4 linked regions of the Homo sapiens genome follow. The protein of the gene in region 1 binds, or shares a complex with, the protein of each later gene. Each region holds a gene or a part of one and is shown on either strand. Other genes may lie near its edges.

Region 1 (7,021 bases):
ACGGTTTAAAAAGGTGCAAAGAAGACTTTGGTCTGGAGTAGACACTAGAACTTTTCAGAAGTATAGGCAACAGCCAGTAAAAGGGGGGGGGGGGTAGGTTCCTCCTGCTCCAGTCACCTGCAAGTCAGTCCTCTCCCGGGGTTTTCTCAGTATTCGCCATAGGGACTATCAAAGTTTGAAGCATAGCTCTGCCTGTCTGCTGCTTTGTCACTGGCTGGCATGAAGCCATGGCAGAAGCCCATTTGAGACTGGCACCAGCCCTGTTGTGGTTGTCTGCATTCAACTTCTGGCCGGCAGCAGCACAGGGGTCCATCCTCTGGACATCACAGTGCTGGGGACAGGGTCAGCAAAATGAACTTGGGGGTGACAACAAGGACAAACCCAAATTCCTGGAGCTCCCTCTTACAGTAGGAGATAGATCTGTTTGCTAAAAGTACAGGTTGTATGTAACCTTGGTTTTTGTGCCTGTATACTGGTGCCTGAAAAAAACATTAATACTTGGGACATTTTTATTTTGCCAAGGTTCTGGGAGAAGGAAAAGTGAAGGGTTGGGCACCATTTAGCTCCTGGAATTCTGCAAGTCCTTCCGCCTCCTGCGTTTTGGCTGTTGGGCCTTTCCCCCCACTAATTAAAAGTTTTGCTGGGGCGTTGTCATAAATTAAATACTTTAATGAACGTGTAACCGAAGCCCATACTCTGCAGCCAGTCCTCCTGGGACTCTACCAGCTCCCTCAAGTTGGGAAGGCGTTCCTGCTTGCCTGGTGCCGGTCTAATAAGTGGCCCGCAAAGCATGTGATATTTTGCTTTCGATTTACAAAACACCAGATAAATGGTTATTAATAAGGAGATACCCAGCTCTCTGTATTTGTAACAAACGTTAACTGGAATTACCAAGCTCTGTTTTCCTAAAGACTGTAACTTGACTGGGTTTTGGCTTAAAGAATCAAGAATTCTTTTATGAAGTTCATTTTCCAAGGGGCCACCTCTGACCTGTTTTTTTTGTCCTTCCATATTCTTCAAATTTGGAGGTTTTCCTTAAAAGAGAGAGAACAGTGACCTTAGCCCCAGGGATAAAGACCAGCAGGGGTAAATGTTCCCAGAAACCTCCAAAAACCATAGAAAAGAAAGGCCATGTTCCCTTGGGTTTCCTGCAGAGACACTGGGATAAATCTGTTCTCAGGATTTAAGCAGTCATTCTGCCAGGCCAGGGCCTCATTTTCGGTGAGTGGAGTGATATATTTATTCATTAGCAAGTGTTGACATTAGGTAGCAAAATGTGTGTAAACAGAGAAGCCACAAAGACAGGAATGTGCCATTTCCAAGGGGGAGAAAAGTTCTCCAGATCAGCCAATAGGAAGTGATTAACCTGCCAATCGGAAACTAAGACAGCTGGTTACTCACCCAAAACGTTTTGTTGAAAATAGAACAAAAAAAGAAATGAGAAAAGGCGCTGCTGTGTAAGAATTTAGCATCAGTAATAGACAAAGCCCCCACGAAGGGAATTGTCCTGCCACATTGGAGGACAGCCAGGTCTGGAGCTGGAGCACACCCCCCCCGCCCCCCTCACAGGTCTGGGGCTGGTTTTGCCAGCTGCTGTGGCCGGGGGCATTGAGGTCAGACCACAGATGGGCGCTGACCCAGGTCTTCATCCCCATTTTGCGTATGGGAGAATGTTTGGCCCGGGAATCTACATGGACCATTTACATTCTTCAGTTTCTATGTCCCTTAGGTTGAATTTTTGGTCTTGGGTTACTAGATGAAACAGGCACAAAGTTTTACAGTGGACAACTGTTAAAATCTTAACCAGTTGCACAACTAAAGGAATACATCCTGTGAAGTCTCCATCTTAGGAAAAGGTGGTGGGAATGGGGCTGGGGCCTGGTACCCTGCAGCCTTTGGAGACACAGAGGGCTCAAAGCTAGGAACTCCATTTTGCTATAATTTAAGCCACTCCACTCAGCATCTGGGAGGCCTGGACTTTAGACACCTAGGTACTGTGTGGTCCAACCAGGAGAGCCTTCTTTGAAAGAGTGTTCACATGACTGAACCTAGGGGAGGCCAGTTGTGACTTGTGGCTGTCAGAAGTCAGAAAGACACCCCCACCTCCACATCCCACAAGAAGTCAGAATTTGCTGTTTAAAGCTGGATCTCGGGGATAGCTGTGTGGGCTCTGCTTCCCGTGTTTCATTGTATCTGATGGTCTGAAAGGTTTGAGGAATGGCTGGCCTTGGGGGGTTGCTGGGTGAGCTCTTGAGGGACCCAGGTGGCCAGTATCCATGGGCAGATCCAGCCTGCAAATCCAGATCGGAAGTCTGGTGTCTTGACCTGAGATCTGGCACTGCGTTTCTCTCTTAACCGAGGTCCCTCTTAACTTTTCTAGGCCTCTTTTAAAATCAGCATGATGAAAGAGATTAGGTCATTCATTCATTTATTCATTCATTGGTTCAGTCATTCATTTTACAGGCATGATGATGTGCCTACCTAGAAATTTGAGGATTCCGATGCAGTGCTGTGTTCTTTTTTTTTCCGAGACAGTCTCATTCTGTGCCCAGGCTGGAGTGCAGTGGCCCGATCTCGGCTCACTGCAAGCTCCACCTCCTGGGTTCACACCATTGTCCTGCCTCAGCCTCCCGAGCAGCTGGGACTACAGGTGCCCGTCACCATGCCCAGCTAATTTTTTGTATTTTTAGTAGAGACGGGGTTTCACCGAGTTAGCCAGGATGGTCTCGATCTCCTGACCTCGTGTGATCTGCCCACCTCTGCTTCCCAAAGTGCTGGGATTACAGGCGTGAGCCACTGCACCTGGCAGTGCTGTGTTCTTTTATAACCAGGGTTCATTTGAGTTCTGGGTTGGTTGAACTACCTGGGGCAGAGCTGGGACCCTTGGGGTACAGTGGTGAGTAGGGGCTCCTCTGTCTTTAACAGTACTTAGGAAGCTCAGAACGCAGTTGCTGAGACTATCGTGGGACTCCCAGCTCCTTTACCTTGTACTCATTCTCAATAGTTCGCTCCTTGGCTGCTCCCCAGGGTTGGGTTTTCAAAGACTCTGTTGGAGCTGCTCGGAGAAAGGAATGAGTCTTTTTCTCTCGCAGAACCTAGTGCTTACCAAGTGCTTGATAACACTTAGTGTTGCGTGAGTCAGGAGTGGCCTAGAGCTTCTGTCTGCCAGCCAGCCTGGGCTCTGGGGAACAGGCGACACAGGCCTAAGGTGAGACCCTGACTTCAGAGATCTGTCTATGCGGAGCTTTTCTGTGGGTGAGAGATGGAGGTATGGCTCCTTTAACCTTGAGGCCAGTCTGGATGGCCTGGCCACCTCCAGGAAAGAGGGTAGGGACTCCATAGCCTGCCTGGGGAGTGAGAGCCATGGGATAGGGCTGGACTCTTGGGAATAGCCCAGCTCACTGGGTGGCCCTTTGAGCTAGTCAGTGACGCCTCAGTTTACCTGGCTGCCTATGGAACAGGTATACTTTGCTTCTTCACAGGGGTGGTAGGGAGGCTTAATTAACGTTTGTAAATCCCTCTTGAGATCAAAGCCACTGCAGAAGGGCAGAGCACCATTTCACAAAAATGCTTGTGGTTGCCTGTGTGGAGCTGGCTTACCTTTGATCTGAGATGGGCTGACACCCTGAATGTGGTCTCAGCTCTGCTCTGAGATGCCCGGCTTTTCCTTTGAAACACACCTTGCCCCTGGGATTCTGCCAGCCAAAGGTGGCGGGGAGTGGCTGTGGATAAGTCATTATGTTTAATGTGGGGGTGTCTTCCATCTGGGAGGAGTGGGTGGAGGAGAGGGTTGAGAAGCCTATCTCTAGAAAATGATGAAGGCCATCAAAATGGTTTAGAAAGTGCAGGGTATACACCATTTAACAAGTAACTCCATTTCCTGCCTGCCTCTATTGTTTTCTGTTTGATTAAGTGTATCCTGTAAAACTGTATATTCCTGTTAGGAATTAGACTTTACCCTGATAAAATGAGATTACACACACAGTCTTCTTTCCCCCTACCCACCGCAGCCACCTCACCCCCACGCCTGCCTCCACTTCTGCCCCTCGCCCGCTTAGGAGAGTTCTTGAAAAGTTGTCCTTCCAGCCTTGAGAATGTGGGAGAGGGAGTGACCCTGAGTTAGAGAGAGAAACTTAGCATTAAGAGGGCAGACAGCAGAAACCCAGAGATGGTTTGGGGCTATGTGTAGGCCACTAAAGGATTCCCATGGGCTACTTGCCCGTCTGCTCTTTTTTTTTGGCTTTCCTATTTGCCAGCATGGCCAAGTGGTTCCAACTGGAAACCCACAGGGACATTGTCCTGGTGGCCTGGGGTAGGAGGCCTGGTGTCTGCACGATCCAACCTGTTGTGTTTGCTGCGGACCTGGGCAGCACCTTTCCTTAGCCGGGCTCTCCGCTAGGACTTCAGGGAGTTTGGCGCTGCCAGTGGTGCATGACAAGCTTACAGGGTCTTGTGTATTTGTGTTTCATGGGACTAATGAGTTGTGGTTCATGGACATTAGGTTTTGCTTTAATTGCTTGGAGGGCGGTTGTGGAGACTGTTTCTCAGCTGGAATTGTCATTATCCTCATTAACGGTGAGGTCACTGTGCAGAGTACCTGAGGGTGACAGAAGTTGAAGAGAAGTCTAGTTAAGGGCAGATGCAATCTAAAGGTAAAAATCAGTGAGGAAACTCCGAGTGTTGGGTGCCAAATGTTTTATAGGAACTGAGGGCAGAGAGCCTTAGCAGGTCTGGGGTTGCCTGGGAAGGTTTCCAGAGATGAGGGGTTTGGACTAGCCTGGGAGAGGTAGAACATTTCCCCTCCGGCTCGGAGCCTTGCTGAGAATGTTCTCTGTCTTGATCTGGTGGTGGTTACACAGATGTATACATGAGTAACATTCATTGCGTCTACTTGGGATTTTGTATACTTTGCTCTACTTAAGTTAGTCCTCAATTAAAAAAGGGGAAAGAAGTCCCGGCAGCCCAACATCAATCTTGAGAATGTTTTCAAGAACTGGGAAACCTGTCTTTAAAAGGATGAAGGCAGAGAGGACATGGGCTCCAAGGAGAGAGCCTTCTGCCCTTGATGAGGGATGACAGAGCAACCAGGGTTGAGAAAGTCCAACCCAAACCTCCTTTGACCTTGGGAACCACCTGGTATCCGTAATGGGGGACTGGTAATGCAAGAGAAATTCCAGCCAGTCTCATTGAGCCTGACTCGAGTAATGATTAACTGGCTGCCCGGAGCCCAGACGGGTGACAAGGTGCTGTGGTCTGTCTTACGATGGGCAGTGAAGCCTGAGCAGACCATTAATAATCAGCATCAAGGCCGCGAGTCAGCCTTTTGGAATGTGTGGTTTGTCTTTCATGCTGTTTAGAGCGTGCTTAAAGATGGATCTTGGTGTTTTTATTTGTGTATTTATTTCTTTCTCTCCCCTTTTCAAATCCACAGCAGACTGTCCAGATGCTGTGCCTTCCTCCGCTGAAACAGGGGGAACGAATTATCTGGCCCCTGGGGGGCTTTCAGGTAAGATGCTTTCTCTTATTTTCCTGGCAATTCCAACCTTTTTTGAAATTGCTAAAGACTGGAGGAATGGGGGTGGCCTTCTGCCACCCCAGCTGGTCTGGACTTCATTCTCATTTTTATATGCCTTAAGTTGGATGCATCGGTGGTGACATTGTGGTGCCCTTCAGCTCCTCATCCTGCAGTCCTTTACGCTCTGGACACTGGATCCGTTCCGTGGACGGGGAGACAAGAGCGAGCTGGGGATTGCTTTGGTGTGTGAAGTGTTGCCCGGTTATTTTTAAGCAGCTCCTGGCTTGGGGGGCTTCAGCTTGGTGACTTTGGTGTCATTAACTCATGCATTTGAGCTCTTTTTTTGCTTTTGCTCTTTGCGCATGGGGGATGTAAAGGGAATGGACCCACCTTTAGGGAACTTGTTGAAGACAGATCCCAAGCATACGATGGGATTTCAGAGTAGATCTGAGGCTTCCCTCCCAAGTTCTGATTCCCAGCCCAGCCTGCTGCAGGATTTTGCAGCACATGTCTGGGGCTGGGAGCACCAGGGTGGGAGCACTGCCAACAGTAGGAGCTGTAATTGTTCCCTAGCGGGGCAGGTTTTCCTCAGGGCTCACAGGTATGCGTGAAGGCCTGGAATGCCAGTGCTGGGGGGTCACGGGGCTGGCTGACAGGCACGGGGTAGCCAGAGCATTGTTGTTCCTGAGGATGCGAAAAGAGGGCAGTACTTAGAGAAACTCACTGGTTATGTACATGGGACGCATTTCATGTTGTTCTGAAGAAATCCTATTTCTACCTGTTTTTCCATCCCCACCATGTCATCACTAGATTTTCTAAGAACTGGCTGAAGCAAGAGGGAAAACGACCTTAAAAACAGAAATTCCAGCAGAGTTTTGGGCATTTGGCATTTCCTTGCCTGTAGGATCACGTGGTAGCAGCTCGAATAGAAGCTGTGCCCTGTTGTGGTGTATCCTCTTGTGTGAGGGGCACCCTTTTTTGTGGGGTACCTGCTCTGACTACTTGGTGGTGTGTCTTCCATGGCTGGCTCAGGCAAAGTTCATTCCCGGACGGCTCCCTCCCCGGCTCTCCTCTTCAGGAACTGAGCTTGCTGAGAACGTCTTTAGGGAGACCCTTGTTTGTTTTCATTTCAATGCAATATATACTCTGTTATCTGAGACTGAGGGTATTGTTTACTCAAAGCTTCTAATGAGAATTGAGCAGGAAAAAGAGGGACCTAGAGAAGGGAGGGGGCTTCAGGCAGTACGGTGGGAGTGGACAGAGGAGTTGAGGAGGGAGAAAAGGCAGCAGTGTGTGAACTGCATCTTTTCTGCTTTCTAAGGCTGAGAGAGTTCTTGAAAGAAAGAAGGCCAATGAGAGGAAAGGGTCTCAGCAGAATAACACGCTCAGGATGTTGTTAGATGGTTTTATTTTTTAAACCCTGAATGTGCAGGGAGGAGCCCCGGCCCCTCCAAACCACATGAAATAAGCAAGGGAAGTGGCAGCTTTTGAAAGGGTCCTTTCGGA
Region 2 (6,824 bases), on another chromosome or scaffold:
AAAGGGAAAAGGTGTTTCAGAAACAACACTCATCACCTGATCCTTCCCTATCAAATGTCATCCAAAAATTCCTCAAAGCATTCTTGCTTCGATAATCTAAATTCCTAAATCCAAAAATAATTTGGTAGGAGGAGAAACCAAGTCCTCCCTTTCAAGGCTCAGGCTTGGCAAATAGGATTGATTAATATACATACACCAGACATAAACATTTCAATTAAAACCTATTCCTTCTAAAACATTCATCATATTTCTAACACAAAATCAGTTGCTTTCGCTTTTAACAAGATAACTGAAACCAATCTGATGTCAATTACAGACTGAGCTGTAAATCAGAACCAAGTTAAAAGCTTTACAAGTATTACAATCTCAAAAATGTTACTTTTATCTTACCACATAAATAAAAATGTATCTACATTGTATCTACAAAGTGAGAAGCGTTTCCTATCAGCCCTGGCATAAAGAAATGTATTTCCCCAGAAGCAAAGATCCCAGAGGAAACTACCTCCTACGTTACAAAACCAGGGTCTGGGTTTGGGTCCAAATCATTATTTGATATCTTTATACAAAAAAACAAAACCTTCTCTTAAGACAAAAGTTGGGCCATGCAACAACTATGGGCTCTCAAAGTAAATTTTAGTTTAAAAAAATTACCTATTGTTTGCATGGATTTTACCGATGACTTTATGGCTGCGCATCTGCCATAAAGTGTTCAAAACGCTCATTCTCTCTTTGAAAGGACCTGACCAAACCAGGACTTTGGAGTTCTCACCCGACTGAGCCACTGAACAGAAAAATCCAGGGGAAAATCCCTGACGGGGATTAGAATGAACTTTTTAGTTTCCTTCCAGAGCTGGAAATATTCGAGTTTGGAAAGTCCCGGAGCAGAGCCGCATTTGCAACACGGCCATCCTGCTTTAGGGATGAATTGAAACTGGAAAGAGAGTAGTACCAATGAGAGTGAGAAAGGGAAGACGAGGATGCAGCCTGGTCCAGAACCTCTGGAGCCCGGGGGGAAACAGGTTGGCATCACATCCGCGCCACCAAGTCGCAGGCCCGCGGCAGAGCGTTGCGCTCACCCTTGAAGGTGGCACTACAGAGCCACCCAGGAAACACGGACTTTTCATTGAAGACAAAATGAATCAAGGAGCCTGCGTGTGGGCAGCTTCCAAAGCCTCCAGTGAGTGTGGGAGTAGGGATCAGAGCCTCACGGCGCTCTGGGTTGCTGAGTGTGGGGGTGATGGTGAAACAAAATGCAGAAAAGGTAAAAATTGAAGAAGCAGAGTTAAAAGTAGCTAGCGGTCTGGCCTAAGAGACAGGAAGTGGCCCAGACTGAGACTGAAGAGGGCTGGACCAGGGGGAAGTGAAGAGAGCAGGACTGGGAGCAGCTACAAGATAGGATTGAGGAATTTCAGGCTGAAGGAAAGAAAGGGTGGAGGCCTCGCCAGACAGCAGCGAGGGGGCGGGGCTAGGCAGGAATGAGGGCGGGGCTTGAAAGTGAGGGGCGGGGCTAGGGGAAGAAGGGAGGAGGACGGTGTGGGGGGGTGAGGGAGAAACGAAAGAGGATGGGGGAGTGAGAAGAGGGTGGGTGGGGGCAGGAGGGGAGAAGCAAGGGGGCAAGTGGAAGGGGAGGTAGCAAAATAGCTTGGAAGTGGTGGGAAAGACCAGGAGGATGAGGGGAGGGAGCAGGTGGGAGGGAAAACAGGAAAGCAAGAGAGATGATGGGAAAGTGGTGAGAAGTGAGGGATGGGACCAGGGGAACAGAGGCAAGGCCAGGAGGGAAAAGCGAGGGGGCAGGTGGGCGGAGAGGATGGGAAGCGAGGAGAAGGAGGGAGGGGGTAAAAACGGCGGAGGAGAAAAAAAGGAGAGAAGCAAGGGGGCGGGACCAGGAAGAAGTGAGGGCCGATGCTAGGAAAGAAGTGAGGAGGCGGGACCAGGAAGAAGTGAGGGCCCAGGCTAGGAAAGAAGTGAGGAGGCGGGACCAGAGAGAAGCGAGGGAGCTGGACGCAGGGAGAAGCGAGGGGGCGGGGACAGAAAGTTAGGAGGCGGGAGCAGAGAGGAGCGAGGGGGTGGGGCCAGAGAGATGGGCGGGGTCAGGTTTGGGGAGGAAAGGTGGGGAAGAGAAAGGACCACAGGGATGGAGGTGAAAGGCAAGGGGGCGGGGCCTGGGGGGAGAAGCGAGGGGTCAGGTGCTAGGGAGAGGAAGGGAAGCGAGAGGCAAGGGGCCGAGCCGGGGAGAGGTGAGGGGAAAGGGCCTGGAAGGAGATGCAAGGGGCGGGGCCAGGAAAAGAGAAGCGAGGGGCGGGGCCAGGGAAGGAGATGCAAGGGGCGTGGCCATGAATGGAAATGAGAGGGGCGGGGCCAGGACGGAGATGCGAGGGGGCAGGTGCGGGGGAACGGGAGGGAACGCGAGACCGAGGGGGCGCGAGCGGCCAGGGGGCGGGGCCGGGCAACGGCGAGGGGGCGGGGCCAGGAGGGAGAAGCGAGGGGCGCACGCCGAAGGGGGTGACGAGGTCCTGGGACAACGGCCGGCGTGGGGGAGGGCCGCTTCCAAGGGCGCCCTGCGGGGAATTCCGGGGCGGGCGAGGGGGCGCCGGGGCGCGGGTGGGCCTCCCGCCGGCCGTACCTGTCAGACGGATCTTGATGCTGGAGCCGTTCCTGCGTGTCCCGGGGTTCGACATCTCCCGCCAACGATCGGGCAGCCGCGGATCCAGCGCCACCGCCCCCCAGCCCGGCCCGGCCCGGCCCCGCCGCCGCCGCCTCAAGGTTACGGCTCCGGGCTGGGCGCCGGGGTCCGAGCCGGGACACAAACTCCGCGGCCCAGGCGTCCGGGCGGCAGGCGGATGGTCGAGCCGGGAGATCGGCGCTTGCTGCGGCGCTCTGACCCTCGCTGCTTCCAGCCGAGCCCAGTCCCGAGCCGCCGCCGCCTCCGCCGCCGCCTCCGCCGCCTCCACCACCTCAGAGCCGGACGCCCGCCGCCCTCGCCGCTTCCGCCGCTGCCGCCGCCTCTCCGAGCCGCGCGCGCGCCCGCCGCCGTGCCGGCCCGGCCCTGCGCGCCCCCGCGCCTGCGTGCGTGCGCGCCCCCGCCACGTACGCTGGGGCGGGGCGGGGTGCGCTGCTACGTCGCCCGCACGCCTGCCTCGGGCGCGCGGGGCCCGGATCCCGCGGGTTGGGGTCTTCACCCTTCCTGTGGTCGGTGGGTGGGAGGGTCTGGCCCCGAGCCCGGGAAGGGAGAGCAGAGCTGGCCCCGGGACCCAGCGCGCGGTCGCCCTCTGTCTTGACCCCTGTCTCTGCGAGGCTCTGGGCTCCTGAGTGACTGAAGAGTGGTTTGCATGAAACCGTGGGCTGTGTCCACACCAAGCTCCTTGCACACAGGCGTGCAATACCAGTTTTTTTCAGTTAAGAGCTTTCGATCGTGCAAGTTCAAGGGAGGGACTTCTCAAAGAGACAAAGCCCTTAGGTGTGTTCTGTGCAACGGGTGTGCTCCACTGACCCATAACAAAGTTGCCAGAATCGCAGAAGTGCCATATACGGACAAGGAAAACGAGATGAGAGGGAGGGATAAAGTTGAGAGGCGGATGTTTGTTATTATCCATTCTGCATACAATTTTACCAAACAAGAAAGTGGCATTGTGGTTTGTGTTCCCATGTCTTCTGCTAAATTTCCCCTTCTCCCGGGGTTGCAGGTTAGAACCAAAAGCTCATGGCTGGGTACGGTGGCTGTAGCCTGTAATCCCAGCACTTTGGGAGGCCGAGGCGGGCGGATCACTTGAGCCCAGGACTTTGAGGCCAGCCTGGGCAACATAGGGAGACTCCATCTCTACAAAAAATACAAAAATTAGCTGGGCATGGTGGTGCGCGCCTGTAGTCCCAGGTACTGGGAGGCTGAGGTGGGAGGATCACTTGAGCCCCAGAGTTCATGGCTGCAGTGAGCTATGATCAGGCCACTGCACTACAGCCTGGGTGACAGAGCTAGACACTGTCTCAAAACACACACACACACACACACACACACACACAGAAAAAGCTCATTATGCGCTTTCTCCAGCAAACAAACTCCTCTCTGTTAGCATGTTATAGAAATAAACTGGTATTATTAGAAAGAGGGAAAACTAGGTTTATCAAACTTGTTTTTTACCCACTACCTTGTTGTTGTTGTTGTTGTTTTTTGAGACAGGGTCTCACTCTGTCACCCAGGCTGGAGTGCAGTGGCACGGTCTTGGCTCACTGCAACCTCCACCTCCCAGGTTCAAGTGATTCTCGTGTCTCAGCCTCCTGTATAGCTGGGATTACAGGCGTTAGCCACCACACCCAGCTAATTTTTGTATTTTTGGTAGAGATGGGGTTTCGCTGTTTTGGCCAGGCTGGTCTCAAACTTCTGAGCTCAGGTGATCTGCCCGCTTCAGCCTCCCAAAGTGCTGGGATTTCAGGCCTAAGCCACCGCTCCCAGACCCCACTACCCATTTTCATGTACAAGTTCTTTTTTATTTTTATTTGATTCTTCATCAATCAACTTGAACAAATTCTTTTAATACTGTGTGTGTGTGTGTGTGTGTGTGTGTCCCAAGGAAAGTAGGCTCTGGGCCATTGCTACCATCCCCTGCAGCCTTGTGCCTGTCCTAAGGTCACAGTCTTCGGAACAGAGCCTTCTACCTAGAGCGCCTAGACATACCTGCCTGCCTGCCCGCCTGCCTGCCTGCCTGCCTGCCTCGGATGACCCTAGTGAAAGCAGAGTCTCTCCTGGGCAGGATTCAAGGCATCACATCTGTCAAATAAAAGGATGGTCCTAGGTCATTTCTATGGCACCTTGCGGCTCTTTCAGTTATCCTCAAGAAAGACCCAAGAATATAAGCAATGTTTAAGCAATAGCAGTAGAGCCACAATCCAGCTGTTTCCATTTGTAGATGATTGTCACAGAGAGTGAATGCCTGGGTCTGAATTAATCCATCCAGTCTCTAATGCTCCCAAGTAATCCCCATTCTTCTGCCAATCCCGTTAGTATTTCCCCCCTATTCAAAGAGTCTCCTCTCTAAACAAAACCAGACATCACTCTCTGCTTACCTGGGTGCAGGCTCCTGTTCTTATCCCCAGGTGTTCCTGACCTGGAAACCTTTCATTGCTTAATTTTGTTGTTTTTCTCCCCGCCCCGACGGCTGGTTCTTCGTTGGCTTGACTGTTTCCTTAATCTTTGAGTCAGGAGGTTGCTTCTGGAGGTTTCTGAAAGGCATTTTGTTCATTCATTAACAAGTACAGATGCTCCTTGATGTACAATGGGGTTACATTCTGATAAACCCATAATATGTTGAAAATATGTCAAAAATGCATTTGCGGAGGCCGGGCATGGTGGTTCATGCCTGTAATCCCAGCACTTTAGGAGGCTGAGGTGGGGGGATTACCTGCGAGCAGGAGTTCGAGACCAGCCTGGCTAACATGGTGAAACCCTGTCAACTAAAAATACAAAAGTTAACTGGGTGTGGTGGTGTGCACCTGTAGTCCCAGCTACTCGGGAGGCTGAGGCACAAAAATCACTTAAACTCGGGAGGCAGAGGTTGCAGTGAGGCGAGATTGTGCCACTGCACTTCAGCCTGGGCAATAGAGCGAGACTGTGTCTTAAAAAAAAAAAAAAAAAAAAAAAAAAAAAAAAAAAAACAACGGAAAATGCATTTACTACACCTAAGCTACCAGCCATTATAGCTTAGCCCAGCCTACCTTAAATGTGCACAGAACACTTTCATTACCATACGGTGGGGCAAAATCATCTAACACAAAGCCTATTTTACGATAAAGTTATTATAAAGAATTTTGAATCAAAATTCGAAATTTGAAGTGTGGTTTCTACTGAATGTGTGTCGCTTTCCTACCATAACATCAAAAAATCGTAAGTCAAACCGTCATAAACTGGGACCATTTGAAATTGCTAGATATACCCAATAGTATCTTTCACCACAGCTGCACAAAGGGGACCTTCCTACCTGGAAGCTCATGTTTTACTCATTCGGCAAACATTGGCCACCTGCTATGTGGCTAGGAACAAGGAATACAAAATAAATCTATTACAGCTTCAGCATTCCAGAGGGTCAGTTAACTGGATGAAACAGACATGAGCAACTGACAATGATACAGTGATGGGGATGTGTATAGCAGGCTAGAACATAGATGACAGAACAATTCTACATAAGAAGAGAAATGGAGACATCTCGAGTCACAGATGATCTTAATCTAGAGCTTAAAGCCAACGTTCAAGTTTGCTGGGCAAAGTGGTGAGGAAGGGCATTATAGATAGAAGGAACAGCTGCACAAAGGCATGAACGTGAATGGCATTTTCCAGCACCATTTTCAATAAAAATGTACTTATGGAGCTGCTTGTATACTCTATCCATACAACTTACTCCATTAAAAGTTGATAAAAGTCCGGGCACAGTGGCTCACGCCTGTAATCCCAGCATTTTGGGAGACCAAGGCGGGTGGATCACCTGAGGTCAGGAGTTTGAGACCATCCTGGCCAACATGGTGAAACCCCATCTCTACTAAAAATACAAAAATAACCTGGGTGTAGTGGCAGGCGCCTGTAATCCCAGCTACTCGGGAGGCTGAGGCAGGAGAATCTCTTGAACCCGGGAGGCGGAGGTTGCAGTGAGCTGAGATTGCACTGCTGCCCTCCAGCCTGGGCGATAAGAGCAAGACTCTATCTCAAAAAAAAAAATTTTTTTTTTTGATAAAAGCCTGGGCAACATAACGAGACCCCCATCTCTACAAAAAATTTAAAAATTATCTGGGTGAGGTGGTGCATGTCTGTAGTCCCAGCTACTCAGGAGGCCAAGGTGGGA
Region 3 (8,016 bases), on another chromosome or scaffold:
ACTCTATACAAGCAGAAAAAATTCTGCATTCAGACCCCAAAGATCTGAGTTCCAGTCTAAGTTGGCTAGTGTGACACTGAACAAGTATCTTAACTTCCATATGCCTGTTTTCTCCTTTATAAAATAGTTTTCATGATAGAAAAATGGATGTATATGAAAGAACTTACAGTCACCAGTTTGTGTTGTGAACAATAGTATTTACAACCTAGATTTGTACTATTCATAATCTTGCATAGTTTTTAAAATATTTTTAATTAGCATTAGAGTTTGATTATCAAAAAGTTAGAATTTCCTAGATTCACAAAGGTAAGGAAACTGGAAGGACTCAGTAGAGTCATTAATGCCTTAAAGTGATACACCTTTTTGAGTTTCCCATCAGAATAAGTATGATTTAGGAAATCATTAGGAGAAATAAAAGTCGAATTTACAGATGCAAAACACTTAGTTAAAAACTTATTTAAAACAAACAAAACTATAATAGTTTATGAATTTTAGAACTGCTGGATATAAATTCTTGTAAAAATTATTTACTAGAAGAAAAAGTACACTTCCCAGTTGTAATTCTTTGTGGCTGATGCCACAAAATGGGGGATCCAATCTATGTGTATTATACTTTGAAAACATACCGTGCAGTCTGTAGGGTGCATGCCAACATACATTTACCCACAATGAGTCCATAAACCCACTTCGAGGGGTAAGAGAAAAAAGCATACCTAAGACAAATTGAAGTGTTTAGGCAAGCAGCTAAATTGTTTTTCCTTCTTTCCTCCTCCTTAACCCGGGTTTTTGTCATCAGGTTAAGTGATTTTTTCTGAGTTCCAAAACCCTTTGGTCTCCGACAGGAGACTATACAACAGGCCTGCAAATAGGAGAGGGAATGGGAGTGGGGGCGGTAACTCTTCTTTCCACTCAAGTTACATCCCGAGTGGGCTAACTACATTGCAGTATTTGGAAAACCTATTAACTTTTGGGCAAAGTTCCTATGCTGAAGTTTAGCCTGAAGCAAGTTCTCAAAAAAAAAAAAAAAAAAAAAGAAGAAGAAATAAAAAAGAAAGAAAAAGAGAGAACCCTACACAAAACAAATCCACTGGGACCTATTGGAATGTTAACACTCATTATAAACAGTTTCACTTCTATGCTGAATCAAGTTGGCACAATAATCGAACATTGTGTATGTGGAATAGCAGCCATGTTCATATCCGCAATAAGAATTAAAAAGCAATGGCGATCCTAGAATTAGTCATCGCTTCCCAAACATTAACTTTTAATCACAGTTGAACTAGGCAGGACTTGGCCTATGAGTCAACCTGCAGTGTATTATCAAAGGCTTGTGTTAAAACCTCGGTACTGTAAAGCGCAACTCAGTTCCTGCGCAACGTACAGATGTGGCTAATTCAAAAGCGTTTCAGCCGACTGTAAATAATAGTCTACAACTGGGAAACCAACACGCGACCTACTAAGTTTGATAAGAGCAAGCCGGCCCAAGTTCCAACACACAAGGGAAGAGCAGGGGTGAAAGAACTCCATAAACAACTTCCAGGAAAGTCTGGGCAGGGGAAGCCCGAAACCTGTATTCCGAAATCGCCTGAGCCGCGAGGAAAATAAATGCTTACGGGAGGGGGAGGGGAAACGGGAGGGGGGAAGGAAAGAAAGAGCAAAAAACTAAATGGACCGGTTCTACCCCCACCTCTAATCAACACTGGAAAACAAGAGAACAATTATTTGACTCCCCCAGGAGACTGAAGTGGACCGAGAGGCCGCAAAGGAAAGGGGCCCAGGGCTCAACTTCACAAACTCGGCCGCCGCTGGCAACACACCCACACACAAATGCCAGAGGCCCCCCTCCCCCTTTCCCAGCCCGGCCCGGCGGGAGCGAAGGTGCGGAGCGCGCGGAGGCGCGCGCATTGTGCAAGCCCACCGCGGCCCAGGCCCGACTTTTCCCCACCCCCTTCCTTCCTCCCCACCCCTCCTCCACTCCCGCCAACCTCTCGGGAACCCCGGGAAGAAAGAAAGGAAGAAGGAGGGAAAGCACGCCCCCCGGGGCTGCAACCGCAGAGAGAAACTCAGAAGGGAAAAACAAATCTCAGCCCCGGACTCTGGGAGGAGTGGGGAGCTGGTCACCGCGGCGGAGTGGACGACTCCAGTTCCACTTCGCCTCGGGACCCCCACCCCAGCTAGAGTTCCCGCAACCCCCCTCCCCTGACCAGAGCTGGCGGCCGCGGCTCCCGAGCGCCCCCCCGGTCTGAGGCCCGCCCGACGGGGAAACGGGGAGAGGGGCAACGAGGTTACCTGTCGGGAGTGGGATTTGGGCTCCGGCGGCTTGAAGAAGGAGTCGGGCAGCTTCCGGAGCCTCATGGGCACGGTCTGGGGCACGTTGGCCGTCTTGGGGTTCATGACGGCGTTGAAGAGCGCCTCCAGGTCGGTCTCCGAGTCCCCGCGGACGTGCACGATCTGATGCCCGGCGGGGGGTGCCTGCGGCGCCGCCTGGGTCGCCGCGGGTGCCGGTTGCCCGGGTCCGGACGGCGGGCCCTGCCCCTGCGGGGGCTGCGAAGGCGGCTGCCCTTGGCCCTGGGGGGCCGGTTGAGGCGGCGGCTGCTGCCCGGGATCCATGGCTTCTGCCTCCCCCGACGCGCACCCCCTGACCCAGGCGAGCGAGGGCTACGCCCGGACGCCCCGGCTCCACGGGCCGAGGTGGAGAAGCGGCGACGGCTGCGGGCCGGGCGGCGCTGTCCTCGCTCTCAGGGCCGGGGGGCTGCGCCGCGGCCCCGCATCCCCCGCCCCGGCGCCTCCGCCCCCGCCCTGCGCCCCGGCTCCACTGGTCTGGCGGCTGCGCCTCGGGAGGGGCTGCGAGGCACTCGGACCTGCGGCGCCTGAGAACTTTTTCCCTCCAACTCCCTTGACGGAGGCCGGACAGCTCGTTGCCTTTCCCCGCCTCCCCTTTCTCTTTATTTCCTTTTCTTGTTCCTTCCTTCCTCCCTTTCTTTTCCCTGGCGGCGGCTGCGCCCGACTGAGACAGAAACTCGCCTCAAACGCCAAAACTAAAGTTAGGAGAAGCGCCCGCCCGCGCCGCCGCGGCCCCGCCTCCTCTCGGCTCTTCCTTCCTCTGCGCGCCCGCCCGCACCGCGGCCCGGCCGGCAGCGCAGGGAAACTTTTCGCTGCAAGTTGCTACATTCCTGCACACTCCCGGCCCGCGGCGCCTCTCCCGGCCGCACGTGACCCGCTCGCCCTGGCCCGGTCCGCCCTTCGCCCGCGCTCAGCCGGGCAGGGGCCCGAAGCGTGCCCCGTATTCTGCCCCGCGAACCGCAAACGATGGGTCCAATCCGGGTCCGAACTGTGGTGTCTGCGGAGAACGCGGGCGCCCTTGGCTGCAGGAAGTTCTTCCGCTCCGCTCGGCCCCTTTTCCCCGCCCGTGCTCGGGAAAGGCGCTTCCAGTTCGCCTGGACCTGCGAAAGGGCCAAGGCCGAAAGAAGTGGAGAGAGGATGTGCGAACCCACCTCCTCCTCCTCGCGTTACCCCGGCTTGACCGAGCGGAGCGCCTGTGCGAGCTTAAAGCCGCGAGGATAGATTGGAGTTAAAATAGATACCGTGAGCCGGCATTGATGTTAATAAAGATCCATTGTTTTCAGCATTAACTTTATTTTGTAATTGTTTCACTTATCTGTTAGTCTGCAAAAACTCACTTGAGAGGGGTAAACGGTTACTGTAATTGAAGCTTTGAGACCAGGTCTGTAACTCAGTGTAACTTATTAAAAGAAACAAAAACACTACATTTTCCAAATAGTGAAATCACATCAACTTTTTTAGTACTCGAATTTGCAATAGTCACTGGAAGCCGCAACCCAAAAAATTAGTGCGTCTTCAGGTACAAGCATTCATGCCTCTGTACCTGTCTTTCATCCTCAAGGAGCTGGGTCCCTACCCCTGCTATCCCTGTGCCTGGCCCAACGGTGGACTCCGTTAATGTGGACTGAATAAGAAATGAATGGGCAAGGAGGTCATCCCAGGCACCTGATGTACAAGGAGCCCTTCTGGAAGCCACTCAAAAACAATAGAAATGTTTTTTAAGTCATACACTCTGGGTTTTTTTTTTTTAAAGCATCCTTGTTGAGATATAATTTATATACCATACAGTTTTTGCAATAGTTGTACATATTAGTATATTTAAGCAATTCACTGTTTTTTTAAATATATTCATAGGATTGTGCAACATCAGTCTAATTTTAAATGCACAAGCCCATTCTAAGGAAATCTGGCTTTCTTGTTTTAATGATTTTGTCTACAATGCTAGTGAAACAAAGGTATAAGTAGGATTAAGCAAGGAAAAAGTCCGTGAGCAAAAAGGTAATTTCTTCCTTCAGCCAGAACATGCCCAGGAGAATTCTGAAGGATCTGTATCACTTGGTGTGGTAGGGCTCGGCCAAAGGAGCAGGCCTCAGACACTCAAAATTCTAACAGAAGATTCCAATCAACTACTCTGAACCCCCAGTTTCCTGTCTGAAAAAAAGGATCAGAGTAAATGACACCCATGACTAGTTCTTGGATTTGTTCCCACTCCTAAATGTCAAGTGCATTTAACGACAGACTTGCAGGTTCTGGAGTTACAGAGTTTTGAGTTCAGGTCCCAGTTCTGCCATTTACTAGCTGTGAGGTTTTGGACAAGTTATTTATTTCCTGTTCTTTAATATTAGCATCAGGGGTAATAACACCTACCTCATAGTTGTTGGGGCATTAAATGAGTCAATGGATATAAAGTACTTAGCCCAGTTTGGGACGTGCAGTGAGTTCCACATCAATGTCAGTTGTCATTGTTGTCCCATGTTCACAGATTATTTCACAGGTAGTAACATAGCCTCTCCTTGCAGCAGCCCTCTCTTTCTAAGCACAGCCTCAGGGACCCTGTTGGTAGTCCCTTCCTCTCTTATCCAATAATCAGTCCACACAAACAAAACCTTTGGGCAGAAACTATGCATTAAAAACTTTACCTGAAAGAAAACTTTAGGAACCAAAGTGGGCCGGGTGCGGTGGTTCATGCCTGTAGTCCCAGCACTTTGGGAGGCCAAGGCAGGGGAATCACCTGAGGTCAGAAGTTCGAGACCAGTCTGGCCAAAATGGTGATACCCTGTCTCTACAAAAAAAAAAATACATAAAAATTAGCCAGGTGTGGTGGCATGTTCCTGTAGTCCCAGCTACTCAGGTGGCTGAGGCATGAGAATCACTTGAACCCAGGAGGTGGAGGTTGCAGTGAGCTGAGATCACACCACTGCACTCCAGCCTGGGCAACACAGCGAGACTCTGTCTCAAAAAAAGAACCAAAGTGATTGAAAACCTGGGATTGGAATAGAAGCTGTCCCTTTACTAGAGCATTTACTGCTATGAACACTAACTAAAGGGCTTCAGATACAGCAGAGGCTGCTTTGTTCAATATTGTTTCACCTGCCATTAAACTGAGGACAAAATTACTTTGATAAGTGGAGTGAAAGGGTCTTTGGAGTGACTATGTTCTGTAAGCACTTCTGTATCATCAACCAAGATTTTGTAATTTACTATTCCTCGTTTATACAATTTCAACCACGGTGTAGTAGGGGATAAAGATAACATATTCAGTCCTTTGTCTACTCCCTTCCTCTTCTGCCCATTTTGTGGACCAATTATCTGTTGGCAGCATCTTAAAATAGGGAGTCACCTTCTTCGTATAAAGATGCACCCTTATCCTGGATCATTTTCAATGTCCAGGTAGATCACTATCTCAAAACATGCGTATCCCAATTAGTTGACCTGTCAACTAAAATGGACCCTCATCTCTACTTCACTTTAGCCACCTGCCCCTTCGTCTGTACTCTGCATCATCCAGAAATACTCCAGTAGTGAAGTCAGACTATGGTATACCATATTCTTAATAATCATCTGGTTCTCTTATTTCATTACTCACATCTCATTTATCCTTAACCTCTCCCTTTTCTGCAACCTATCACTCCCTTCCCTTTTCATTTCTGTTATGGTTTGGGTGTTTCTGTCTCTCCAAAATTCATGTTGAAACGTCTCCAGTGCATCAGTATTAAAGAGGTGGGGCCTTTAAGGAGGTGATTAGGTCACGAAGGTTCCTCCCTCCTAAATGGGATTAAGAACTTTATACAAGAGGCTTCACACAGCATTCAGCTGTTTTGCCCTTTCATCTGTCTGCTGTGTGAGGACACAGCCTTCATCCCTTTAAGAGGATGCAGCAACAAGGCACCATCTTGGAAGTAGAAAGCAGCTGTCATGAGACAGCAAACCTGTTGCTGCCTTGATCTTGGACTTCCCAACCTCCGGAACTGTGAGAAATAAAATTCTAGTATTTATAAATTATCCAGTATGTGGTATTTTTTATAGCAGCACAAACAGACTAAGATAACATCCTTGCCATTCAGTTTGGAAATCGTAATTCATTGTTTAAACTTCCCATGCCAGGCATGATGGCTTATGCCTATAATCCCAGCACTTTGGGAGGATGAGGTGGGTGGATCATCTGAGGTCAGGAGTTCAAGACCAACGTGGCAAAACCCTGTCTCTACTAAAAATACAAAAATTAGCCGGGCATGGTGGCACATGCCTGTAATCCCAGCTATTTGGTAGGCTGAGGCAGGAGAATCACTTGTATCCAGGAGGCGGAGGTCACAGTGAGCCGAGATTGTGCCATTGCACTCCAGCCTGGGCGAAAGAGCGAAACTCCATCTCAAAAAACAATAATAATAATAAATAAATTTCTCACAATTATCTAAATCTTCAATCCCGTTCTCTCATGGATTTTAATGAACCGAATCTGTTATACTGTTTTAATCCAGTTATCTGTGTTTTATTCCAACGCCTAAGCTTATAGGGCCTAGCCCCACATTCATGAGAAGCTTCAATCAAAGCTTTTAACATTTTGTCCAAATAAGGTTACACTACCTTCCCAAATATATGCCTACACTATACAAGGAGGCATTCTTTGTAGAACTTTAAACTTTGTCTCATCACCAAATGACACTATCTATAATGCATTATGAATTAATAGTTTAAGTAGGCCAAGTGTGGTGGTGCACACCTGTGGTCCCACCACTTTGGGTTGCCAAGGGGGGTGGATCACCTGAAGTCAGGAGTTTGCGACCAGCCTGACTAATGTGGTAAAACCCTATCTCTACTAAATACAAAAAAATTAGACGGGCGTGGTGGCACATGCCTGTAATCCAAGCTACTTGGGAGGCTGAGACAGGAGAATCACTTGTACCTGGGAGGCAGAGGTTGCAGTGAGCCAAGATGGAGCCATTGCACTCCAGCCTGGGCAACAAGAGCAAAACTCCATCTCAAAAAAAAAAAAAAAAAAAAAAGGCCGGGTACTGTGGCTCACACCTGTAATCCCAGCACTTTGGGAGGCTGAGGTGGGTGGATCACCTAAGGTCAGGAGTTTGACACCAGCCTGGCCAACATGGTGAAACCCTGTCTCTATTAAAAATACAAAAATCAGCAGGGTGTGGTGGCGCACACCTGTAATCCCAGCTACTCTGGAGGCTGAGGCAGGAGAATCACTTGAACACGGGAGGCAGAAGTTGCAGTGAGCCGAGATGGCGCCACTGAACTCCAGCCTGGCTGACAGAGCGAGACTCCATCTCAAAAAAAAAATAGTTTAAGTAAATTCTATAATTATCTGGTGAATATCACAATTATTTTTCTTTGTAATTATCCCATGTTAAAAGTATTAACTTGTTAAGTGTAAACATTTGAAACATACCAATGTTTTAGAACCTTCTCTTGGCATTCTGGCATGCTAAGTACACTGGGAACTTGAAAGAAGTGGTCAGCTCTCTTCCAGCCTCCGAGAAGCCTGGCTAACACCTTGGTTTCTGGGGCCAACGGAAAGGAATCTCACATGTGAATGCATTAGTGTCCTTCCACATTTATAGTCTCTAACTGAACCATGTTTCCCTGCATCTGTAATGAGCCTTTTCTTGCATGATATAGCTATTCTAAACTTAGTCACGTAACTCATCACATTTATTC
Region 4 (7,021 bases), on another chromosome or scaffold:
TCATGTTGGCCAGGACCAGGCTTAGGCCTTAAAAAGATCTAGCAGCTTCTGCTTTTGAGCTTTAGAAAGCTGGCCACCCCATAAGAAGTCTGGCTATCTTGTTGGGAGAGAGAGTGGCTATGGGGGGAGGGAGTGGCTATGGGGAGAGGGAGTGGTCATGGAGAGAGGGAATGGCCTTTGATATCACATAGGGAGAACCAAGGAACTCAGCCAACAATGAGAACAAGGCCCCAGACAGTGACCCCAGTCAACAGCCATGCCAGCTAGCCCTCAGCCATTTGAGTTATCCTAGTTATGAGTGAAGAGGCCATCTTGGTGTTGCAGGCCTAGCTGACATCTTGTGGAACACCAGTGTTGTCATCCATGTTGTTCTTTTGCCCAATTTCCTGACCCATGGAATTGTGAGAAATAATAAAATGTCTGTTCTAAATAAGCCACTAAATTCTCCTGAAGCGGATTTTGTAACACTAAGTAGTACTATCTAAATATTTAAGTTTGTTCATACTAACATTCTAGAACATTTTAAAAAATTCAGCCTTGAGAACACAGGAGTGTTTACCTGACATATTCTTTTTTATTTTCTTCATTAACAGGGATACTTTTGCCATTTGGTTTAAGTTCATGCTGAATAATTTCACCATATGCATTATGTTCAACACAGAAGGTATGGTCCAAAACACCTGTAATATCATTCTCACTGGATAGGAAAGAGGAAAAGATATGTAACTGGGAAACCTAAAATACAGACCCTATAGATGTATTAATTGGTGAGATAAAACTAAGATCATTTTATAATATAACAAATGTGAGGTCAGATTCTGCTTCCATACCACCTAGTTCTTTCTGGACAGAAAAGTCAAAGAGCTTTAACCTTCATAAACACAGAAAACATTTAACTTCCTGAGTAATGAGAAAGAGCCTTGGTCAAAGCTGGGCCTTGCTAGAACCACCAATATAGGACAATTTCAGTTACATTTGGCATTCTGAAGAGCCCTACTCGGTACTGTACTCCAAGGGGCCAAGTGCCTGTGTATCCCTAGTGAGAAAGCTACTGTATACTTTATAAAAAATAAACATTGCCAGTGTATCTTCACAAAATAATGACCTCTTGCAAAACAGAATCAGTTCTTAGCTTAAATTCAACAATTAGTTCTTATTCTAAAAGTACGGTTCCAACAATCGCCACTTCATTAAAAGCAACAGCAGCCAAGAATTTGCTATTCTAACACACGCAGGTTTGGAACAGAATTTGTATCACATTGAGGAAACAATTATATAAAGTACTTTTAAAAATAGAAATATACTAGTTGTTTTTTCCTTTTTAAAGTAGTAACACTTGCTAAGTTTAAGGAATTTGAAATGTATAAAGAAGCTACAGGAAAGGGGGAAATCATATGCGATCCTATCACTCAAATAACCACTCAATATTTTCTGTGTAATTTTTTTAAGTACATCAGTTTTGAAACATATTTTTTTTTAAAGCTCAGAGTTTATAATGAAGAGATAGAAGACTCAATACATACAGTATCCACACTAAACTGTTGTGAAGATCCGGATCTACTAACTCCATGTCATCCAAGGTAATTGACTTCCCAAGCAATTGCTTATAAAAAGGCAATGTGAAACCACCATCAATATAATGTCCATGAAACACAGCCATTCCCATTATTCGTCCAACAAAGTGGAAATAGGATAAATGTTCCTGAAATTGAAAACAGTATATATACTCGTTAGGCACTACCCAGGAAAATTTTAATAAAAATGAAATATTTCAGCAACATTAATCTTTTTGAGAATAAGCATAAAATTTTTACTCTTCAATAGAGTCAGGAGGGAGTATTTCTCTAGGGCATGCTCCAGAGTCTCTAGATCACCAGAGAACAGCATATTACACAGGGTAATATGCCCTTCTCGCAGGGGCCAGTCATTTTGTAAATTTTATCTTTTAGAAATTAAGTCCAAACTATGGTCCCGGAGCTTCATTCAACTACTTGCAGATCCTTTTCTCTTCCTTCTCTCACCTCCTGCTGAGCCCTTTGTCATGAAAAAAAATCTTTCAATCCTAAACCTCCCTACTTCCTTGACCTAACCAGAAATTAAACATCAAAACACCATAGATTTAAGAGCACAGACTTGGTGTCAGACTTGAATTAGAATCACGATTCTGCCAGTCAATGGCATATGGACAAATTAACCCCCGTAAGACTAACTGTCCACATCTGGAAATATGAGGATAATAACAGTATCTAAAAAGCATCTCTATGAGGAGTAAAATGAGGTGATGTTTGAAACCCATGGAACTGGACCTGGCATGTTATAAGCAGTCAATGAGTCTGGGCTATTGTTACTACAGGGGCAGTAGTGGGCCCTCCAAAAAGAACCTTCACCTCAAAATCCTCCCTAAATAACTTCTTGAAACAAATCTAACATTTCTACCCTTTTATATATATTTGGTCTTTCGTCACAGATTGTTTTGTTAGATGTTTGTATTTTTAAATTCTTTTACCTCTCTATTTACTAAGTAATCTTTTAAGCTCGTCTTTAAACCTTTTATCTTGTTTTTGTTTCTTTTTTAAAAGTAACACACGCGCACGCACACAAACATATATATTTACCAAAGTTGCATTATACTATTTGATAACCTTCGTTTCACTTAACACATCATAAACACCATCTTTCCATATCATTAACTATTATCCCACATTATCATTTTAGTGGCTGTATAGTATGCCCTTATATGGAAAGACAATATAAAAACAATACATTAGTAATAACTGCTAACTTCTGTTGAGTGCTTAGTAATGTAGTTGATAGAGTTGTAGAGTGAATAACATACAGCACTGTGCTAAGTGCTTAATGTGCAGGGTCCCATTTCATTCTCATAACCCCTCTTTGAGGTACAAATGTATTTATTAGCAATGACAAAACTGAAGCTTAAGTCCATGAACTTGCCCTGAAAGGTCACAAAGCTAGTAAGTGATGAGACCACGACACGTCTTTCTAATTCCAGAACCTATGCCTTTAATCATTTGCATTATTCTGCTTCATGTCATAATTTAATCAGTCCCCGCTCCTGAAGACAACTATGTTGTTTTCAGTTGAGTGCTACTATAAACAATAAACATCCCTGTTTCCAAATTGGTGCATATATCCATAATCATCTGCTTGGGAAAATTTTATAGAAGGGGAATTGCTGAGTCAAAGGGCACAACTAAGACAAGGACAAATAATTTCTATATAATAAACTACATTAACATGTAAACATGAAAAGCATTATTGGTCACAATTCACATCATAACTTCAAATCATACCGGATTAACTGCAGAATCAGGATTGATCTGCAATGTATAAATATCATCTCTTGAATACTGGAAGAGGCCATAGTATGGATTCAACATTTCATGTGACAAGAGATACAACCATTCCCTAGAAAACAAGATATGACCAAGGAATTTTTTTGTTAATGTATACATTTTTATTAAGATATGTCATTAACTAATCATTTTAGCAAATAATTATTTAAATTAATAAAAGGCAAAAAAGCACTAACTACAGTTATATAAGATCACATTGGAAAAATCTACCGTACCCAAATAGCATATAAAAACTCTATTATATTGAAGTAACATCTCACGCAAAATTTAGGCAATTTTATTATATTTTAGCATCAAAGAGTATAAAAGTATTATCCAACAGTTCAGCTACTCACGAGATGATACGGTCCAGTGGTCTGTTACTTTTAATTGCCAAATAAATTTGTAATCCATAATAAACATAAAACAAAAGGAAGAATATGGTTTTATTTCAAAATGTCCATGTGAGGCTGGGGACGGTGGCTCACACCTGTAATCCCAGCACTTTGGGGGGCCAAGACAGGTGGTTCGCTTGTGCTCAGGAGTTTGTGACCAGCCTGGGCAACAAGGCGAAATCCCATCTCTACAAAAAATACAAAAATTAGCCAGGTTGATGGCAAGTGCCTATAGTCCCAGCTACTTGGGAGGCAGAGGTGGGAGGATTGCTTGAGCCCTGGAGGTTGAGGCTGCAGTGAGCTGAGATTGCACCACTGCACCCCAGGCTGGGTGACAGAGACCCTGTCTCAAAGAAAAAAAAAAAAAGTCCACGTCATCTCTATTATCCTGGTCTACTCCTATCACGACCAGTTTATACAGACATATAATATAGTATTGATTTACTCTTCATTTTGGACAAGGCTATATTTTGTTGTAGTATTAAGGACATTTCATTATTCATTTCATTATCATTCACTGTATAAACCCTGAAACATACCATGATAAAAATATAAGTGGGCAAGGATTGCAAGGCATTTGGTGTAGGTATGGACTCAAGGGCAAACGTGCATTCTTTGGGTATGTTCCATACCACTTCTTGACTTCAATGTAAATCAATGTTTTTAAAACCTGGAATAAAAAGTACTTCCACCTTGAATTTATTAAAACCTTCAAATTTTTCAAAGTATAAAAGATAATTTGTTACTCACTTTGGAAATTCACTAGTCTAGGACTTAAGAGATGTAGTTCTAGTCTTAATTCTTGTCATTCCTTGGCTAGGGAAGGTTATTTAAATGATATATTTTGATATTATGGATTAAACAGATTGAATAATATTTTTGAGCAAATGCAGAATAGTATTAAAACTAGTTAAAGGAAACTGTTTCAAAATTCTATGTGATGGAGTCTAAATTAAATTACTACCATTATGTAACATTTGAAAAACTACTCTAGAGATTAAAAAAAGAAGTAACGTCTCCACATAAGCAGCCTTCCCAACATAACACTCATCTGATGTGTCTTGTGTTTTTGGTGTGTGTATGTGTTTTTTAAAAAGAAAATCCAAATTTTTGTTTTGTTTTACCAAGTATTTAGAACACAAATAAGAGCAGAACTCAACTACTTTGAGATTCTACTATGGAATAAAGTTCAGAAAAAGCAGATCACTGTCACATTCCATTTATTCTGCTCAAACCCTGACAGTAGTAAGGTTAAAAAACAAAAAACTGGGCTGGGTTCGGTGGCTCATGACTGTAATCCCAGCACTTTGGGAGGCTAAGGCGGGCAGATCACAAGGTCAGGAGATTGAGACCAGCATGGCCAACATGGTGAAACCCCGTCTCTATTAAAAATACAAAAATTAGCTAGGCGTGGTTGTATGCGCCTGTAGTCCAGCTACCCGGGAGACTGAGGCTGGAGAATCGCTTGAACCCAGGAGGCAGAGGTTGCAGGGAGCCGAGATTGCGCCACTGCACTCCAGCCTGGCGACAGAGTGAGATTCCATCTCAAAAACAACAACAACAAAAAAAACTGACTACGAGCCAGGCATGGTGGCTCGCGCCTGTAATTCCAGCACTTAGGGAGGCGGAGGCTGGAGGATCACTTGAGGCCAGGAGTTTGAGACCAGCCTGGGCAACACAAGATCCTGTTTCTACCAAAAAAAAAAAAATTTTTTTTTTTTTGAGACGGAGTCACACTCTGTCACCAGGCTGGAGTGCAGTAGCACGATCTCGGCTCAGTGCAACCTTTGCCTCCTGGGTTCAAGTGATTCCCCTGCCTCAGCCTCCCGAATAGCTGGGACTACAGGTGTGCGCCACCATACCCAGCTAATCTTTTTTTTTTAGTTTTTAGTAGAGACGGGGTTTCATCATGTTGGCCAGGATGGTCTCAATCTCTTGACCTCGTGATCTGCCCACCTCAGTCTCCCAAAGTGCTGGGATTACAGGTGTGAGCCACTGCACCTGGCCAAATTTTTTTTTTTTTAATTAGGCATGGAAGCATGTGCCTATAGTCCTAGCTCTTTAGGAGGCTGAGGCAGGAGGATCACTTGTACCTAGGAGTTCGAAGCTGCAGTGAGCCATGATCACACCACTGCACTCCATGGAGCCTGGGTGACAGAGTGAGACCCCGTCTCTAAAAAACTAAATAAATAAAATAAACTACTTATTTGATCTATACATATAATTATAGTACTTAGATGCCACCAGTAGTTGATGATGAAGTGTTCCCAATAAACATTCACTCTAGTTATGAGTAAGTAATACAAATTCCACAGAAACTGTCAAGTCCTAAGTATGATGTACAAGGGATTATTTTTAAAAATCCACACTAAAGAAACTATCCATCCGTAGGTTTAAAAGGTGACAGAATGAAAATAAGGCTACAAATACACACATGTAATGCTAAATAACAATTAATGGGAATTATTGAAAACATAATTTTGGTTGGATTTAAGATTAGGGAAAGCAGAATTACCACAATGATCCTTGGAACATTTCAATACAGAGCTACAGTGTTTCTCCATTTATATAAAACGAATTTTCACACATAGAAAAGAATTCTTGTAGTAAATATAATATCAGAAATAAATCACTGGCTGGGTGTGGTGGCTCACACCTGTAATCCCAGCACTTCGGAAGGCTGGGGCAGGCAGATTGTTTGAGCTCAGAAGTTCGAGAATAGCCTGGGCAACATGGCAAAACCCCATCTCTACAAAAAAAAAAAAACAAAAACTAGCCGGGTGTGGTGGCTTGTACCTGTAGTCCCAGCTACTCAGGAGGCTGAGGTGGGAGGCTCTCTTGAGCCCAGGATGGGGAGGTTGCAGTGAGCTGAGATCACGCCACTACACTCCAGCCTGGGTGACAGAGGGAGACCCTGTCTCCAAAAAAAAAAAAAAAAAAAAAAAGAAAGAAAATTAATTTGACTTGACCTGTGAGTTACAAATGTAGCAGAAGCATTCTACCTTCTGTACTGAAACATTCTGAGGACCATCATGATATGTACATGTGTATACACACATGCATGCATACACATTCATTTAACAAGGAAAAAAGGCATAACAAATGGAAGCAAAGAGAACCAGTATTCAGTTCAGGTTATATATCATTTAAATCTCAAAACTGTTCCTGACAATGTAAAGCAGAGGCAATAATGTACTTAAAGAGAGAGATGGAGAAAACACAGGGCCTGCAGTCTCATGGGACTCAGATGGTCTACTGGGGAGTTCCAGAATA

What was found.
Region 2: the proteins of SMAD7 (region 1) and SMURF1 are in contact, whole or in part, in an NMR structure (PDB 2LTX), measured with the Homo sapiens proteins. Residues at the interface, in NP_005895.1 of Homo sapiens: Glu203, Glu205, Ser206, Pro207, Pro208, Pro209, Pro210, Tyr211, Ser212, Arg213, Tyr214, Pro215, Asp217; in NP_065162.1 of Homo sapiens: Glu313, Arg315, Ser316, Thr317, Arg321, Tyr323, Val325, Asp326, His327, Arg330, Thr331, Thr332, Phe334, Thr335.
Region 3: the proteins of SMAD7 (region 1) and YAP1 are in contact, whole or in part, in an NMR structure (PDB 2LTV), measured with the Homo sapiens proteins. Residues at the interface, in NP_005895.1 of Homo sapiens: Ser206, Pro207, Pro208, Pro209, Pro210, Tyr211, Tyr214, Pro215, Met216, Asp217; in NP_001123617.1 of Homo sapiens: Thr241, Gln242, Asp243, Tyr247, Ile249, Asn250, His251, Lys254, Thr255, Thr256, Ser257, Trp258.
Region 4: the proteins of SMAD7 (region 1) and SMURF2 are in contact, whole or in part, in an NMR structure (PDB 2LTZ), measured with the Homo sapiens proteins. Residues at the interface, in NP_005895.1 of Homo sapiens: Glu203, Leu204, Glu205, Ser206, Pro207, Pro208, Pro209, Tyr211, Ser212, Arg213, Tyr214, Pro215, Met216, Asp217; in NP_073576.1 of Homo sapiens: Glu304, Arg306, Asn307, Thr308, Ala309, Thr310, Arg312, Tyr314, Val316, Asp317, His318, Arg321, Thr322, Thr323, Gln324, Phe325, Thr326.

What each region holds. Positions count from the first base shown.
Region 1 is NC_000018.10:48,940,966-48,947,986, reverse strand, and holds part of SMAD7 (mothers against decapentaplegic homolog 7), read left to right. Parts: intron 1-5,179; exon of another isoform or gene 5,180-5,328; coding exon of another isoform or gene 5,329-5,431; coding exon 5,432-5,506; intron 5,507-7,021. UniProt on the Homo sapiens protein: Antagonist of signaling by TGF-beta (transforming growth factor) type 1 receptor superfamily members; has been shown to inhibit TGF-beta (Transforming growth factor) and activin signaling by associating with their receptors thus preventing SMAD2 access.
Region 2 is NC_000007.14:99,141,103-99,147,926, forward strand, and holds the start of SMURF1 (E3 ubiquitin-protein ligase SMURF1), read right to left. Parts: upstream 3,007-6,824; 5' UTR 2,679-3,006; coding exon 2,624-2,678; intron 1-2,623. UniProt on the Homo sapiens protein: E3 ubiquitin-protein ligase that acts as a negative regulator of BMP signaling pathway. Mediates ubiquitination and degradation of SMAD1 and SMAD5, 2 receptor-regulated SMADs specific for the BMP pathway.
Region 3 is NC_000011.10:102,105,443-102,113,458, reverse strand, and holds the start of YAP1 (transcriptional coactivator YAP1), read right to left. Parts: upstream 3,013-8,016; 5' UTR 2,611-3,012; coding exon 2,290-2,610; intron 1,911-2,289; exon of another isoform or gene 1,688-1,910; intron 1,012-1,687; exon of another isoform or gene 714-1,011; intron 1-713. UniProt on the Homo sapiens protein: Transcriptional regulator with dual roles as a coactivator and corepressor. Critical downstream regulatory target in the Hippo signaling pathway, crucial for organ size control and tumor suppression by restricting proliferation and promoting apoptosis.
Region 4 is NC_000017.11:64,554,297-64,561,317, forward strand, and holds part of SMURF2 (E3 ubiquitin-protein ligase SMURF2), read right to left. Parts: intron 3,427-7,021; coding exon 3,312-3,426; intron 1,703-3,311; coding exon 1,524-1,702; intron 698-1,523; coding exon 560-697; intron 1-559. UniProt on the Homo sapiens protein: E3 ubiquitin-protein ligase which accepts ubiquitin from an E2 ubiquitin-conjugating enzyme in the form of a thioester and then directly transfers the ubiquitin to targeted substrates.